Linked DNA regions of Homo sapiens: region 1 is linked to region 2. A link means that fine-mapping ties the variant in region 2 to the expression of a gene that starts in the linked region. Tissue or cell type: whole blood. Region 2 holds a variant in brackets; the other region holds the start of a gene. All regions are shown on one strand. Distances are from middle to middle.

The links. PIP is the estimated chance that this variant, and not a neighbour inherited with it, causes the effect.
Region 1: FSTL3 starts here. The variant in region 2 is fine-mapped to the expression of FSTL3 in whole blood (TOPMed, PIP above 0.99).

The regions. Positions count from the first base shown.
Region 1 is chr19:671,849-679,868 of GRCh38, forward strand. It overlaps FSTL3 (follistatin like 3), which reads left to right and starts at 4,544. Exons shown (of 5, transcript NM_005860.3): 1 at 4,544-4,678; 2 at 5,944-6,129. The coding sequence starts at 4,576. RefSeq lists an enhancer at 6,898-7,400 and a silencer at 7,855-8,020.
Region 2 is chr19:695,404-703,656 of GRCh38, forward strand. It overlaps PRSS57 (serine protease 57), which reads right to left and starts at 49. Exons shown (of 5, transcript NM_001308209.2): 1 at 1-49. The coding sequence starts at 27. The variant T/A (reference allele first, on the strand shown) is at 4,018.

The DNA of each region.
Region 1 (8,020 bases), 24 kb before region 2:
ACAGGAATCTATGCACGCCATGGCCCTACTGTGCGCCTGGCACTGTCCACATCCCACCTGGAACCTCTAACACTGGGGTCTGTGCCCATGTTACAGATAAGAAAACAGGCATAGGCTGGGCACGGTGGTTCACGCCTGTAATCCCAGCAATTTGGGAGGCCAAGGCAGCTGGATCGCCAGAGGTCAGGAGTTCGAGACCAGCCTGGCCAACATGGTGAAACCCATCTCTACTAAAAATACAAAAAATTAGCTGGGTCTGCTGGTGCATGCCTGTAATTCCAGCTACTCAGGAGGCTGAGGCAAGAGAATTGCTTAAACCCGGGAGGCAGAGGTTGCAGTGAGCCGAGATTGCGCCACTGCACTCCAGCCTTGGCAACAAGAGCGAAACTCTGTCTCAAAAAAAAAAAAAAAGAAAGAAAAAGAAAACAGGCCTAGAAGGGTCCCAGGGCCTGGCACACAGTGGGCACCCACGGCTGCTATAACAAATTTGCACAAACTGCCTGGCTTAAAGCAACACACGGGCTGGGCGCAGTGTCTCATGCCTGTAATCCCAGCACTTTGTGAGGCCAAGATGGGCAGATCACCTGAGGTCAGGAGTTTGAGACCAGCCTGACCAACATGGCAAAATCCCGTCACTGCAAAAAAAAAAAAAAAAAGTAGCCGGGTGTGGTGGGAGGCGCCTGTAATCCCACTTAGTCTGGAGGCTGAGGTTGCAGTGAGCCGAGATCGCACCTCTGCACTCCAGCCTGGACAACAGAGTGAGGCCCTGTCTCAAAAAAATAAAAATGGCCAGGCATGGTGGCTCACACCTGTAACCCCAGCACTTTGGGAGGCCAAGGCGGGTGAATCACTGAGGTCAGGAGTTCAAGACCAGCCTGGCCAACATGGCGAAACCGCGTCTCTACTAAGAATACAAAAATTAGCCAGTTGTGGTGGCAGGTGCCTACAATCCCAGCTACTCGTGAGGCTGACGCAGAAGGATTGCTTGAACCCGGGGGCGGAGGTTGCAGTGAGCCGAGATCGCGCCATTGCACTCCAGCCTAAGCAACAGAACGAGACTACGTCTCAAAAAAAAAAAAAAAAAAGTTCCACACGGGTCTGGCTGGGAGAAGATCGAGGTGTTGGCAGAGCTGCATTCCTTCTGGCAGCTCCAGGAGAGAATCTGTTCCGCGCCTTTCCAGGCTCCTAGAGGCCGCCCACATTCCCTGGCTTGAGCCCCCTTCCTCCATCTCCAAATCCCGCAATGGCAGCCAAGTCCTTCTCTTATCCTGTCTCTAACCATAGAGGGCAGGCGTCTCCTTTTTTTTTTTTTTTTTTTTGAGACAGAGTCTCGCTCTGTCACCCAGGCTGCAGTGCAGTGGCACGATCTCGGGTCACTTCAACCTCTGCCTCCCAGGTTCAAGTGATTCTCCTGCCTCAGCCTCCCAAGTAGCTGGGATTACAGGTGCACAATACCAGGCCCACCTAATTTTTTTGTATTTTTAGTAGAGACGGGGTTTTACCATGTTGGCCAGGCTAGTCTCGAACTCCTGACTTCAAGTGATCCTCCTGCCTCGGCCTCCCAAAGTGCTGGGATTACAGGCGCACACCACCAGGCCCACCTAATTTTTTTGTATTTTTAGTAGAGACAGGGTTTTACCATGTTGGCCAGGCTAGTCTCGAACTCCTGACCTCAAGTGATCTGCCTGCCTCGGCCTCCTAATGTGTTGGAGGTTCACAGGTGTGAACCTAATGTGTTGGTGGTTCACAGGTGTGAACCACCGCGCCCGGCCAGGCATCTCCTCTTCTACGGACCCTTCCAGGACAGTGGGCCATCCGTATAACCCAGGATGAACCCCTGTGTGAAAGCCCTCAACTCAGTCCCATCTGCAGAGCCCCTTTGGCCAGGGAGGGTGGGACACCCACGGGTTCTAGGGATGAGGGCCCCATGGTCTCTGGGACCGCCGTTCTGCTGACCACCCCCCACTGCTCTCCCCCTCACTCACAGCACAAGCGTCTGTTTCCAGCGCACACCCCTGCCGCTCCGTCTGACGTTCGAGTCTCAACCTCAACGTCTCTTTCCTCTGGGAAGCCTTCCTCAGTCTCCCCCAGGCCCGGGTCAGGCCTGGGGCACCTTTGCCATCTGGGCATCCTCCGCCACAGAACAACACTGGATTGTCACTGTCTGTTTACCTGTCAGGATGTACCTGGAGGGAGACAGAAGCCTGGGGGGTGAGCAGAGGCCACGAGGAGCCACGGTGGGTGTCTGAGCCAGGGAGAAGTGTTATGGCAGCTGGGGTAGGAAGTGGGCCGCAGGGGCCAGGCTGCGGGCTGGAAGTCCTAGGATGAGCCTCGGGCCTGGATAGGGTGGGGAGAGGGGCAGAGCCGGGAGAGGGGAGGTCATCACTGGGGTCTCAGGAGGAGGCGGCGCTCTGGAAAGGGTCAGTGACCTGTTAGAGGTCACCCTGCACAGAGCCTCTGGGTTAGGGAAGACAGAGCCGGGAGCAGGAGGCCACTGGCAGCTGGCCTCGGTTTCCCCGGAGAGGGCCGGAACCCACGCCAGCCAGACAATGACCCTTTGATTCGCACAGCCCAGGCCGGAGTGGCCAAGCCACGGCGGGGTCAGGTCTTGGCCAAGGTCACACTGTCCAGCCCCCGCACATCCTCAGTGAGAACACAGGGTCCCATCCCTGCCCCACTCCCCAATCCCGGGAGAGTCCCGGGGGAATGCCAGAGGCCAAGGCCAGGTCGAGACGGCGGGGTGTCCCCCGTCAGTGAGAACACAGGGTCCTGTGCCTGCCCCACTCCCCAAGCCGGGGAGATTCCCGGGGGAAATGCCAGAGGCCAAGGCCAGGTCGAGACGGCGGGGTGTCCCCCCTCAGTGAGAACACAGGGTCCCGTCCCTGCCCTGCTCCCCAAGCCGGGGAGATTCCCGGGGGAAATGCCAGAGGCCAAGGCCAGGTCGAGACGGCGGGGTGTCCCCCCTCAGTGAGAATACAGGGTCCCGTCCCTGCCCTGCTCCCCAAGCCGGGGAGATTCCCGGGGGAAATGCCAGAGGCCAAGGCCAGGTCAAGACGGCGGGGTGTCCCCCCTCAGTGCCACTAAGGCAGAACTTGGCCCCTGGCCACTGGCTGCTGGGGGACACAGGCTGGGCAGCTAAGGTGGAGGAAAGGGTACAGGTGTGTCTTCTGTGGGCACAGATCTCACTCAGGCCAGAGAAGGGGCTGTGCCGTGGGGCTGCTGGACACGTCCGTTTCCACCTGCGGGGTGGGCAATGCCGGCACAGCGAGTGGCCAGACACAGGCATGCCCAGCAGACACCCAACCGCTCTCCACCACCTCAACCTTCTGTATTTTCCTGAAAGCATTTACCACTCCTTGAAGTTATAGATTAATTTGTCTCTGCATTTTGTTGTCCAAACCAGGAGCTCGGTGAGGGTGTGATGGGGTCTGCCTTGGTCACCGTGGCACCCCAGCACCCCGCAGGGTCCCTCTGGCCAAAAGAGATGTTCACTGATGCCCTAGAAGCAGGAACAGAGGGGCTCCCCTGCGCTCGCCAAGGGCGCCTGACAAATCTGGAGGCCCCCATGACAGAATCAGCTCCAGAGTAGGAAATGTGTCTGGCTGCACGAAAGCCCCCTCGGGCGCAGCGCCTCCAGGCCCACGCAGATGTCGCTGTCATACATTGTTGGAAACGCCTCTGCTGGAAACAGTGTTTGCTGAATCTTGGAGGGAGAGGAAAAAACCTAGTAAACATTCTTGTTGAGGTGATCTGGGGGAATGTCTGCAAAGGCTTGGAGGGCTGATGGGGCAGAGCTGCCCAGGGGCCCAGGACAAAGGCCAGGCGTGCGCGCGCACACACACACACACACACACACACACACGCAGTGGCCTCCCTGGGGGCCGTGGCTGGGCGAGGCCTGCTGTTGTCCGAGATGCTGGAAGGAGCTGTGTCTCTGGGTCTGTCCCGGCCGCACCCCGTTCTGTCCCACACCCAACCACTCCCCACCCACAGGCCGGCTCCAGCGGCCAGGTGGACGGGTGCGCGGCCCGCGCTGTGAGCAGGGAACCATATCCAGCTGAGGTTTTGGGTGTGTGGGGCGGGTCGGGAACAAGGAGGCCGGGTTGGGGGGCTCAGACCACACTTGGACCATGAAAGTGACCACATGCAAATCACAGAAACGGGATGCAGGGATCCACAGACGTGCTCCTCTTGGGTCCCCGTTACCTCACCGCCACCCCTGAAACTGAAGACCCCCAAACCCACTTTAATTCCTGGAGACGGCCCCTCGATCCACCCAAAAGGCTGCCACCACCTCGAACCCACACCCCTGTCCCGGTTCCGCCCTGGGTCCAGCCACATCTCCCCAAATGCATTCTCTGGCTCCGGAAGGGGACCCGGGCGCTCGCCCCCAACTGCCCCCCGCAGCGGCCGGGCCCGGCGCCTGCCCACCCCGCGCGGGACACGGCCTCGCCCCCGCCACTCCCGCGCCGCGCCCCGCCCCGCGCCCCGCCCCGCCCGCGGCCCGCGGGACCTTTATAGGGAGCGCCGGCCGCGCGCTGGGAAGTCGGTGCCGCTGCCGTCTCTGCGTTCGCCATGCGTCCCGGGGCGCCAGGGCCACTCTGGCCTCTGCCCTGGGGGGCCCTGGCTTGGGCCGTGGGCTTCGTGAGCTCCATGGGCTCGGGGAACCCCGCGCCCGGTGAGTGGGGCGGCCAGAGGGGCGGGCGGGGCGGGCCACCCACGTGGGGCTGCGCGGAATGCGGCCGGGGGGACGTCGGGGGGCGCGGCGGCGGCGGCGGGGGCGAGGGCGGTGTCCGGCGCAAGCTGGAGCCGGGAAGGTCTGAAGGAGGGTCACCAAGAGGTCAGCAGAGCAGAGGTTTCTAATCACAATGACCGCTGACATTTATTGAGCGCTTAGTGTCTACCTCTCCCCTCCCTGAACCTGTGCCATCCCGATAGTGCCGGAGCTCTCTTCATCTCCGTCTTCCAGATGGGGAAACTGAGGCTCAGGGTCACACAGCCTGTAGCAGGCAAAGCCAGGGTTCTAGCCGCGACCGTCCGGGTCGGTCCTGGTGCCGAGAGGTAGTGCTGGGTGTCGGGAGCCAGGCCCTCCAGCTGGGGCTGAGAGCTTTCCCGGGTCCTGGGTAGACGGGGCATGGAGTCTCACACCTGGGACTTGCCGGGAGGTGCCAGGCAGGAGACGGCCCCACTCCTGGCCTCAGTTTCCCCTCCTATGATGGGTGCCAAGGTGCTGCGTTCCACAAGCTGGTCCCTGGCAGTGTCTGTGAACCAGCAAGCGCTCTGGGATGGGGGCTGTGGCCGTTCCTGCCCCCAGGGACGGGGGAAGAAATGGGGGGCTCTCTGGCTCCCCACCCCCCATCCCTGCAGCCCCACCCCACCCCAGCCCTGCGCCAAAGGGAGAGCAGAGCCCCCTCCCCGAAGGCCACGTCCCTGGGGAGACAGTGAGCTCATGCAAGGGGAATGTTCCCAAGTTGGAGTGAGTAAGAGGCGGGCCAGGCGGTGGGGGGGCTGCCAGGCGCGGGGCTCCGCGTGCCCTCGCCCTCGGGTGCTGTCTAGACAGAGGGCAGAGGCGGGAGAAGCGGCTCCAGGGCCTGCTGACCCTGACATGCCCAGTGCCTGGTGTTTGGTGGTGTTTGAGGGGTTGGGCAGGGTGCCAGCCCCTGGCCTGGGGGCTTGGAGGGTACGGGAAGGGACCTCCTGGGGTGGGTGGGGGTTGGTGGTGAGGCTGTGGGGGGGGGCACGTGGAGCTCAGAGGGGAGGAGACATTTCCAGGGTTCTGGAGCCAGGGTGGGGACACCCATGTGGTTTTCTGCCCCTTCTTCCTGGGTGGGGGTAGATCATTCCGTGCGTAACTACTCAGCACCACCTGCATGCATCTGTGGGCGGGCCAGAAGCTGGGTGTCAGGAGTGGCCCAGGAGAGCACCCCGTTCCCCGGCCCGCAGGTGGTGTTTGCTGGCTCCAGCAGGGCCAGGAGGCCACCTGCAGCCTGGTGCTCCAGACTGATGTCACCCGGGCCGAGTGCTGTGCCTCCGGCAACATTGACACCGCCTGGTCCAACCTCACCCACCCGGGGAACAAGATCAACCTCCTCGGCTTCTTGGGCCTTGTCCACTGCCTTCCCTGCAAAGGTGAGACCTCAGGCCAGAAGCAGGGCAGACGTCTCAGCTCAGGACCAGCCACAAACAGTCATGGTGGTCGAGGGCCGAACGTCCAGGGACTGAGCCCGTCACAGGGGTATGTAGGAGGCTGCAGGGGGATCCCAGCCTCAGAGAGGGACTGGGGGGACTTCCCGGTTCCCAGGCTCCAGCCTCTTGCAGCTCAGGACTCAGGAAGAGACCACGTGGCTCCAGCCTTTGCTGGGGCTGAGCTCTCTGCCTGGGTGGCTCTTCCCACCTGGTCGATAAATGTCTGGCTTGCACCTAGCTCCTGGGAAGGTGGGTTTGCCATTCTGGCCTGTGACCCCAAATGTCCACACCAGGGACCTTCACTGCAGACTCCAGGGTCTGCGGTGGGGTTACAGCTGCATGTTTAACAAGCATTTGCCTCGGGACCCTGTTTTGAGAGGATGCCTCCCACATCAGACTAGGGGCTCTTGGTTGGCGAGTGGCACAGAACGAATGAATAAGATTCTCCGCACTGGAGGATGATGGTTTTTTTTTTTTTTTTTTTTTTTTTTCCTGAGATGGAGCCTCGCTCTGTCACCCAGGCTGGAGTGCAGTGGTGCGATTTTGGCTCACTGCAACTTCGGCCTCCGAGGTTCAGGTGATTCTCTTTCCTCGGCCTCCCCAGGGGCTGGGACTGCAGGCGCGCGCCACCACACCTGGCTAATTTTTATGTTTTTGGTAGAGACAGGGTTTCACCACATTGGCCAGGCTGGTCTCAAACTCCTGACCTCAAGTGATCTGCCAGCCTTGGCCTCCCAAAGTGCTGGGATTACAGGCGTGAGCCACCATGCCTGGCCTGTTGGGGCACATCTTGAAGGAGGTGGGCATTAGAGCTGGGGTGTTGGGGGATGTCTAGGAGTTTGCCAGATGGGGCCGGTATGGGAGAGTGGATCAGGAGAGAACATGGCTTGAGGTTAGGTCCTGGTGGGTGGGGTCAGGCAGAGGAGCCAAGGGGAGGCTGAAGCTGAGGGCTGCAGACCCGAAGGCCAGGCTGAGGAACTCTGCTGGCCTCTGAGATGTGATTAATCCCAGATCAGCCTGGCTGGGTGGTCCTGAACTCACTGCCACATACCCCTGCTCCCTCCAGACCCCCCTCTGGCTTCTGGGAGAAGGACAGTCTTCAAAAAGTGCCTGGCCTGGGCATGAGACGGCCCAGGACCCCCCACCCCCAACCTCATCTGGCCCTGGGGACGGAACTCAGGCCCCCTTCCGTTCTCGCTCGCATAAAAGCCACCCTGGCCGAGCATTTCCAGATGTGCCTGTGAGCCGCTGTGCCGGGGCCGCCCAGGTGCGGCCCACATGCCCTGCAAGGGCTGCGTGGCGGGCGCTGGCCATCCCCTAAGGAGTGCCGCACTGCCTTGGAAGTGGGGCTCCCTCGTCAGCCCCACTTTACACACAGAGAAACTGAGGCTGGCACATAAACTCAACAGCTGTGTTCAGAGGCCCTACCAGACCCCCAGATAACAGAAAGGGGGTTGGTCATCTGGGTCCTGGCTGCAGCTTTCAAACTGAGGTGCTTGGGCCCCTGCACTCATAGCTGCGACCCGGCCTCAGTTTCCCCATCTGTAAAATGATGACTTGGGAAGATGCGATAAGCCTAGGAGGCGATGAGCATTCACATTGAAAGCGGGGGCGGGGACCCCAGAGAGAGCTTCCCTAGCAGGACCTCAATATCCCTGTCTGAGCAGCGGGGCTGCGGGGCAGCTCCTGGTTCAGAGGCCTAGGGCTGTGGGGGGCCCCCTCCCCTGGAATCGCTCCCCAGGCCAGGAGGGCCGTCCAGCGCCCCGCCCTCCCCGACGCCTCCTGGGGGAAGGTCCTGGCAGCCCCAGACTCGCGCCTGGCAAGGGCGGAACAC
Region 2 (8,253 bases):
TCCCCAGCCCCTCAACCCGAGCCCCATGGCAGACGCAGGCTGGCGTCTCCCCGCAGAGGTCTTCGGGCCGTGGCTCCCACCCTCAGCCAACGGCCGGAAAGGGGGAGCCTGGCTGTGGCCTGTGGTCGGGAGGCCCCACCAGCAACGCCTGGAGCCCAGGCGGGCGTTTCTGAGAAATCGATGGTCTCAGGTGGTGGCTGGTAATAATCATGTTGATAATAATCATTGTCCCCTAGTCCGGAAACAGGGAGAGGAGGAGACAGCTCTGGGGCTGCAAGTGACCTCGGGAAGGCAATTGACCCTTCTGTGCCTCAGTTTACCCAGCCTCCACGTGGCCCAGCATGTGTGGGGAGCTTTCCGAGGAACCGAGGTCACAGCGGCACTCGAGACCCGCAGCTCGCCTCCGGCCCCCACCCCGCAAACCCCAGTCTTCCCATCTCCAAACCCAGGGCCGACCTCAGGGCTGTGGGGACAGCGAGGAAGGCCGGTCTCCTGGGAAGCTCTGATGATTTCTGCCTTTATTTTATTTTATTTTTATAGGTGGGGTTTTGCTATGTTGCCCAGGCTGGTCTCGAACTCCTGGGCTCCAGCGATCCTCCCTCCTCGGCCTTCCAAAGTGCTGAGATCACAGAAGACAGCCACTGCACCTGGCAGATTTCTGCCTTTATTCAGCAGTTATTGAGTGCCTAGTGTATACCAGACCTCATGCTAGGAGGTGAGGATGAGGCAGTGACCGCACCCCAGCCTGTAGCACTGACGTTCTGTGGGATCCGGAGTCCAGTGGGACATGGCTGTACATGGGGGTCTTCACCTTTTTTTTCTTTTCTTTTTTTTTTTGAGATGGAGTCTTGCTCTTGTTGCCCAGGCTAGAGTGGAATGGCACCATCTCGGCTCACCGCAACCTCTACCTCCCGGGTTCGAGTGATTCTCGTTCCTCAGCCTCCCGAGTAACTGGAACTACAGGCGCCCGCCACCACAGCCGGCTAATTTTGTTTCTGTATTTTTAGTAGAGACGGGGTTTCACCATATTAGCCAGGATGGTCTCGATCTCCTGACCTCATGATCCGCCCGCCTCGGCCTCCCAAAGTGCTGGGATTACAGGCATGAGCCACGGTGCCCGGCCTTTTTTTTTTTTTTTTTTTTTTTGAGAAGGAATCTTGCTCTTGTTGCCCAGGCTAGAGTGCAGTGGCGCGATCTTGGCTCACCGCAACCTCTGTCTCCTGAGTTCAAGGGATTCTCCTTCCTCAGCCTCCTGAGTAACTGGGATTACAGGTGCCCACCACCACGCCCCGCTAAATTTGTGTGTTTAGTAGAGACGGAGTTTCTCCATGTTGGTCAGGCTGGTCTCGAACTCCCGACCTCAGGTGATCCACCTGCCTCAGCCTCCCAAAGTGCTGGGATGACAGGCCTGAGCCACCGCGCCCAGCCCGGCAGGTCTTCACCTTTCAGTGGGAGCGTTCTTAGTGGCAAAGTTCAGGTCGTAAATTGCAGCTCACACAGCCGGGTGATGGCGTTCACGGCAGTGGCTAGCAGTGGGGTGCTCGTCAGCGCTTAATAATGAACAGGCTGGGGCCGGGTGCAGTGGCTCACGCCTATAATCCTAGCACTTTGGGAGGCCGAGGCAGGTGGATCACCTGAGGTCAGGAGTTCAAGACCAGCCTGGCCAACATAGTGAAACCCCGTCTCTACTTAAAGTACCAAAATTAGTCAGGCGTGGTGGCAGGTGCCTGTAATCCCAGCTACTTGGGAGGCTGAGGCAGGAGAATCGCTTGAACCGGGAGGTGGAGGTGGCAGTGAGCCAAGATTGCACCATTGCACTCCAGCCTGGGTGACAGAGCGAGACACCATCTCAAAAAAAAAAAAAAAAAAAAAGTCATCATTGAACGCTCCAGACCTGTGTTTTACCAAATGTAAAGTGTTCTCAATAAAGAATGAAGTGAAATGAAGCAACAGGAAATGCGTGGAAAGGAAGGTATGAAAAGGCCCCACAACGAACTCGGGCTCTGCGAGATGCGGGCGGCCTCTGGAAGCTAAAAAACGGCAGGAAACGAATTTTCTCCTGGAGCCTCCGGGAAAAGCCAGCCCTACCGATGCCCTGACGTTAGCCCAGAAGGGCCTGCAGGGGCTTCTGACCTCCAGCACTGCCAGAGAATAAATTGGTGCCATTTCGTTTATTATTATTATTATTATATTTTCTTGAGATGGAGTCTCGCTCTTTCGCCTAGGCCAGACTGCAGTGGTGCGATCTCGGCTCACTGCAAGCTCCGCCTCCTGGGTTCATGCCATTCTCCTTCCTCAGCCTCCCAAGTAGCTGGGACTACAGGTGCCCGCCACCACGCCCGGCTGATATTTTGTATTTTTAGTAGAGATGGGGTTTCACCACGTTAGCCAGGATGGTCTCAATCTCCTGACCTCGTGATCTGCCTGCCTCAGCCTTTCAAAGTGCTGGGATTACAGGTGTGAGCCACCGCGCCCAGCCTCATTTATTATGTATATATTTATTTTGAGACAGGGAGACAGGGTCTTGCTCTGCCGCCCACGCTGGAGTGCAGCAGTGCAATCAAAGCTCACTGCAGCCTCGACCTCCTAGGCTCAAGCCATCCTCCCACCTCAGCCTCCCAAGTAGCTGGGACCACAGGCACCTGCCACCACCAGGCCCGGCTCATTATTTCATTTTTTGTGGAGACGGGGTTTTGCCATGTTGCCCAGGCTGGTCTTGAACTCCTGGCCTCGAGCAATCCTCCAGCCTCGGCTTCCCGGAGTGCTGGGATTACAGGTGTGAGCCACCATGTCTGGCCCAAGTTGGTATCATTTTAAACCACTACGTTTCTGGGAATTCGTTACAGCAGCTGCAGGAAAGATTTTGGGAAATGGAAAGCTGTTTCCAGGGCCTGGGGACAGGTGGGACCCCAGCTCAGGGTCCGTGTACTTGGGGACCATTTCCTGCTCTGCTGTGGTCTACTGGACCGTCTGGCATCGCTGTGACCGCATGGGCCGTGCTCCATCAATATTGTTTTTTTGTGTGTGGGTGTTTTTTTTTTTTTTTTTAGATGGAGTCTCGATCTGTCGCCAGGCTGGAGTGCAGTGGCGTGATCTCAGCTCACTGCAACCTCAGTGTCCCGGGTTCAAGCGATTCTCCTGCCTCAGCCTCCCCAGTAGCTGGGACTACAGGCGTCTGCCCCCACGCCCGGCCAATTTTTTGTATTTTTAGTGGAGATGGGGTTTCACCATGTTGGCCAGGCTGGTCTTGAACTCCTGACCTCGTGATCCGCCCGCCTTGGCCTCCGAAAATGCTGGGATTACAGGCATGAGCCACTGCGCCCGGCCCTGTTTTTATCTTTTAGAGACAGGGTCTCCTTCTGTCGCCCAGGCTGGAGTGCAGTGGTTTGATCTCGGCTCACTGCATCCTCTGCCTCCTGAGTTCAAGCGATCCTACTGCCTTAGCCTCCCAAGTAGGTGGGATTACAGGTGCCTGCCACCACGCCCGGCTAATTTTTGTGTTTTTTTGTTTTGTTTTGTTTTATTTGTTTGGTAGAGATGGGTTTTGCCATATTGCCCAGGCTGGTCTCAAACTCCTGAGCTCAAGTGATCGGCCTGCCTCGGCCTCCCAAAGTGCTGGGATTACAGGCGTGAGCCATCGCACCCGGCTGTCCGTCAATATTGTCAAACGACTGGACAGCAGGCACTCTGGTCTCCACGGTCGTCGCGTCAGCACGAGTGGGTCCCCTGGACTTGCTCCTACCTCCCCTGCTGCCCTCCGTCGCGGAGCACTGAGGCAGAGACCTGGAAAACGTCCCCAGCTCCACGGGCGTTAGAAGGAGAATTGCCCGAAGCTGCAGGCGTGTGGAACTTTGTTCCCTCACGATGCTGTCCCTGTCCCGGTCGCTGATGGGGACACAGTAGGGAGAGGGTAAGCGCCTTAGCCCTGCCACACAGTGAGGAGCCAGGGGGCCGGGGCTGCTGCCTCAGAGGAGCTCCCACTGCCTCTCGGGACCGATTCTATCCAGAGCTGGGCCA[T/A]TTCCTTCCCTTTTGGTGAACAGTTGTGAAATAAACAACCGTCCTCCAGCGTCTCAGAAAACCGAGCTCCTGGCAGCCCTGAGGAGGGGGCTGAGTGGGGGTCACTGTTCCCACTTCCCAAACTGAGGCCCAGAGAGGGGAGCCGATTTGTCTGGGGCCACACAGCACAGGGTCTTGACCCATGAGCCGCTGGACTGCGATTCTCCTGGAGGGTCTCTCCATGGCAGATCTGAGCGGCTCTTCAGGAGCTCAGACACCAGCCACTGCAGGGAGTCAACAGCAATGGTGACAACAGCTTCCTTTATTGTATTTAATTTTACATTTTTATTTTATTTATTTTGTTTTTTTGAGACGGAGTCTCGCTCTGTCACCCAGGCTGCAGTGCAGTGGCACCATCTCAGCTCACTGCAAGCTCTGCCTCCCGGGTTCAAGTGATTCTCCTGTCTCAGCCTCCCGAGTAGCTGGGATTACAGGCGCCCACCACCACGCCCAGCTAATTTTTTGTATTTTTAGTAGAGATGGGGTTTCACCATGTTGGCCAGGCTGGTCTTGAACTTCTGATGGCAGGTGATCCACCCGCCTGGGCCTCCCAAAGTGATGGGATGACAGGCGTGAGCCACCGCGCCCGGCCCCTCCCCTGCGAAAAATTGTTTTTCAAGACGAGATGTTGCCTGGTGGCTGAGACTGCAATCACAGCTCACTGCAGCCTCTGCCTCCTGGCTCCGCCTTCCCTGTAGCTGGGACCACAGGCTCACAAAACCACCAGGGTAATTAAAAAAAAAAAAAAAGCTAGACACGGTGGCTCACGCCTGTCATCCCAGCACTTTGGGAGGCTGAGGCGGATGGATCACGAGGTCAGGAGATCGAGACCATCCTGGCTAACACGGTGAAACCCCATCTCTACTAAAAATACAAAAAATTAGCCGGGCACGGTGGCGGGCGTCTGTAGTCCCAGCTACTCGGGAGGCTGAGGCAGGAGAATGGCGAGAACCCGGGAGGCGGAGCTTGCAGTGAGCCGAGATCGCGCCACTGCACTCCAGCCTGGGCGACAGAGTGAGACTCCGTCTCAAGAAAAAAAAAAAAAGTTTTTTTGTAGAGATGGGGTCTCACTATGCCGCCCAGGCTGGCCTCAAACTGACCTCGACTGATCCTCCCACCTTGGCTTCCCAAAGTGCTGGTGTAATAGGCATGAGCCACTGAGCCTGGCCTCACTTTATTTTTATTTTTTTGAGACAGATGCTTTGTCACCCAGGCTGGAGTACAGTGGTGTGATCTCTGCTTACTGCAACCTCTGCCTCCCAGGTTGAAGCGATTCTCCTACCTCAGCCTCCCAAGTAGGTGGGACTACAGGTGTGTGCCACCACACCTGGCTAATTTGTTTTGTATTTTTAGTACGGACAGGATTTCACTGTGTTAGCCAGGATCGTCTCGATCTCCTGACCTTGTGATCTACCTGCCTCGGCCTCCCAAAGTGCTGGGATTACAGGCATGAGCTTCTGTGCCCAGCCTCACTTTATTTTTTAACCCCAATAAATGTATATCCACAGGACATTGCTTCTTCTTTTTTTTTTTTTTTTTTGTTGTTGTTGTTGAGAGGGAGTCTCGCTCTGTCACCCACGCTGGAGAGCAGTGGCGCGATCTTGGCTCTCAGCAACCTTTTCCTCCTGAGTTCAAGAGATTCTCCTACCTCAGTCTCCCAGGTAGCTGGGATTACAGGCATGCGCCACCACGCCCAGCTAATTTTTTTTTTTTTTTTGAGATGGAGTTTCGCTCTTGTTGCCCAGGCTGGAGTGCAGTGGTATGATCTCAGCTCACTGCAAACTCTGCCTCTCGGGTTCAAGCGATTCTCCTGCCTCAGCCTCCTGAGTGGCTGGAATTACAGGCGCCCACCACCACCCCCAGCTAATTTTGTATTTTTAGTAGAGATGGGGTTTCGCCATGTTGGTCAGGCTGGTCTTGAACTCCCAACCTCAGGTGATCTGCCTGCCTTGGCCTCTCAAAGTGCTAGGATTACAGGCGTTGCCAACGCGCCTGATCTTTTTTTGTATTTTTAGCAGAGACAGGTTTTGCCCTGTTAGCCAGGCTGCTCTCGAACTCCTGACCTCAGAGGATCCACCCGCCTCAGCCTCCCAGAATGTTAGGATTACAGGCGTGAGTCCCCGTGCCCGGACCTGCTTCCTATTTCTTGAAATGGAAGATAGCTGCCTTAAGAATACACATTGCACTGGCTGGACGCAGTGGCTTGCGCCTGTAATCCCAGCACTTTGGGAGACTGAGGCAGGCGGATCCCCTGAGGTCAAGAGTTCCAGACCAGCCTGGCTAACATGGCAAAACCCCATCTCTACTAAAAATACAAAACTTAGCTGGGTGCGGTGGTGTGTGCCTGTAATCCCAGCTACTCGGGAGGCTGAGGCAGGAGGATCACTTGAACCTGGGAGGAGGAGGTTACAGTGAGCCAAGATTGCACCGTTGCACTCCAGCCTGGGCGACAGAGTGAGACTCCATCTCAAAAAAAAAAAAAAAAAAAAAAAGAATACACATAGCACAACCCAACACTACCTGCCTTCCAGCCAGACTGGAGAGGGCTGGCTTGGCCGCTACTGGGGGTCCCTGAGCTGTCCAAAGGCCCTGCTCCCCGGAGCTCTCTGGCCTCAGTTTTCCCATCTAGGGAATGGGTTGCCCTGGGGCAATGCCGAGAGTGCTGATGAGAATTCAGCAAGGTTGGCTGGGCACAGTGGCTCACGCCTGTAATCCCAGGACTTTGGGAAGTTGAGGCAGGCGGGTCACCTGGGGTCAGGAGTTCGAGACCAGCCTGGCCAACATGGTGAAACCCCGTCTCTACTAAAAATGCAAAAATTAGCTGGGGGTGGTGGCGGGCACCTGTAATTCCAGCTACCCGGAAGGCTGAGGCAGGAGAACTGTTTGAACCCAGGAGATGCAGGTTGCAGTGAGCTGAGATCGCGCCACTGCACTCCAGCCTGGGTGACAAGAACGAGACTCCGTTGGAAAAAAAAAAAAACAGCAAGGTACTGGATGCGGCATGCTGGTGGGGACTGGGGCCCTGGCGCCCCTTGTAAAGCGCCTGTTTGCCCATCCGTAAGCTGGATCCTGCCCCGTCCTTCCCATGGAAGCCATCACAGTCAGAGAAGAGGGTAGAAGACAGGAAACCATCCATTCATTCACTCAACTCATTCCGTGAGCATTTATTGAGCACCTACTGTGTACAGACAGTGTTGTGGGCCTTGGGGACTCAGCAGTGAAGAAGACAGGCAAGTTCCTGCCCTTGTGGGGCTGACATTCAGCAGAGAGGCAGGAAGGAAACGCTGAACACAACATGTAAATGACATTGTCTGTCAGAAGAATTTAGTGGGAAAGAGAGTGTGGACAGACAAGAGGAATAGCAAACGCCAGGCACGGTGGCTCACGCCTGTAATCCCAGCACTTTGGGAGGTCGAGGCAGGTGAATCACCTAAGGTCAGGAGCTCCAGACCAGTCTGGCCAACACGGTGAAACCTCGTCTCTACTAAAAATACAAAAATTAGCCAGGCATGATGGTGGGCACCTGTAATCCCAGCTACTCAGGAGGCTAAGGTGGAAGGATGGCTTGAACCCAGGAGGTGGAGGTTGCAGTGAGCTGAGGTTGCGCCATTGCCCTCCAGCCTGGGCAACAGAGCAAGACTCTGTCTCAAAAAAAAAAAATTAGCCACGTGTGGTGGTGCACACCTGTAGTCCCAGATACTCAGGAGGCTGAGGTGGGAGGATTACCTGATGGGGGAGGTCGAGGCTGCAGTGAGCCAAGATCACATCACTGCACTCCAGCCTGGGTGGCAGAGTGAGACCCTATCTTATTCAAAAAAATAAAAACAACAAGGGTACCGAGGGCACCCAGTGACAATGGGGAAGCTGGGGAAGTTCTCCCAGAGGAACACACAAGGCGTCTAACAGCAGGTGTCTGGATGGCTGAAGCCCAAGCTGGTTGTGGGGCAAGGAGAGGTGAGCAGGGAAGAGACAGGATTGTCTGGGCTCAGCTTTGCCTTGTGGGGCTGCAGGGCACTGGGGAACCATAGATGGTGTTTGAGCTGGGGCAGGCCAGGGCATATTTCTCTGGTGAAAGAGTGGAGTAGGGAGAGGAGGTGGGGAGACCCGGAGGCGACATGGCTCAGGGTTGGGGTGGGGGCCATAAGGCCTCAGCTAAAGTCATGGCTGGGGAGAGGCGAGGGGGGTCTCTGACTCAGG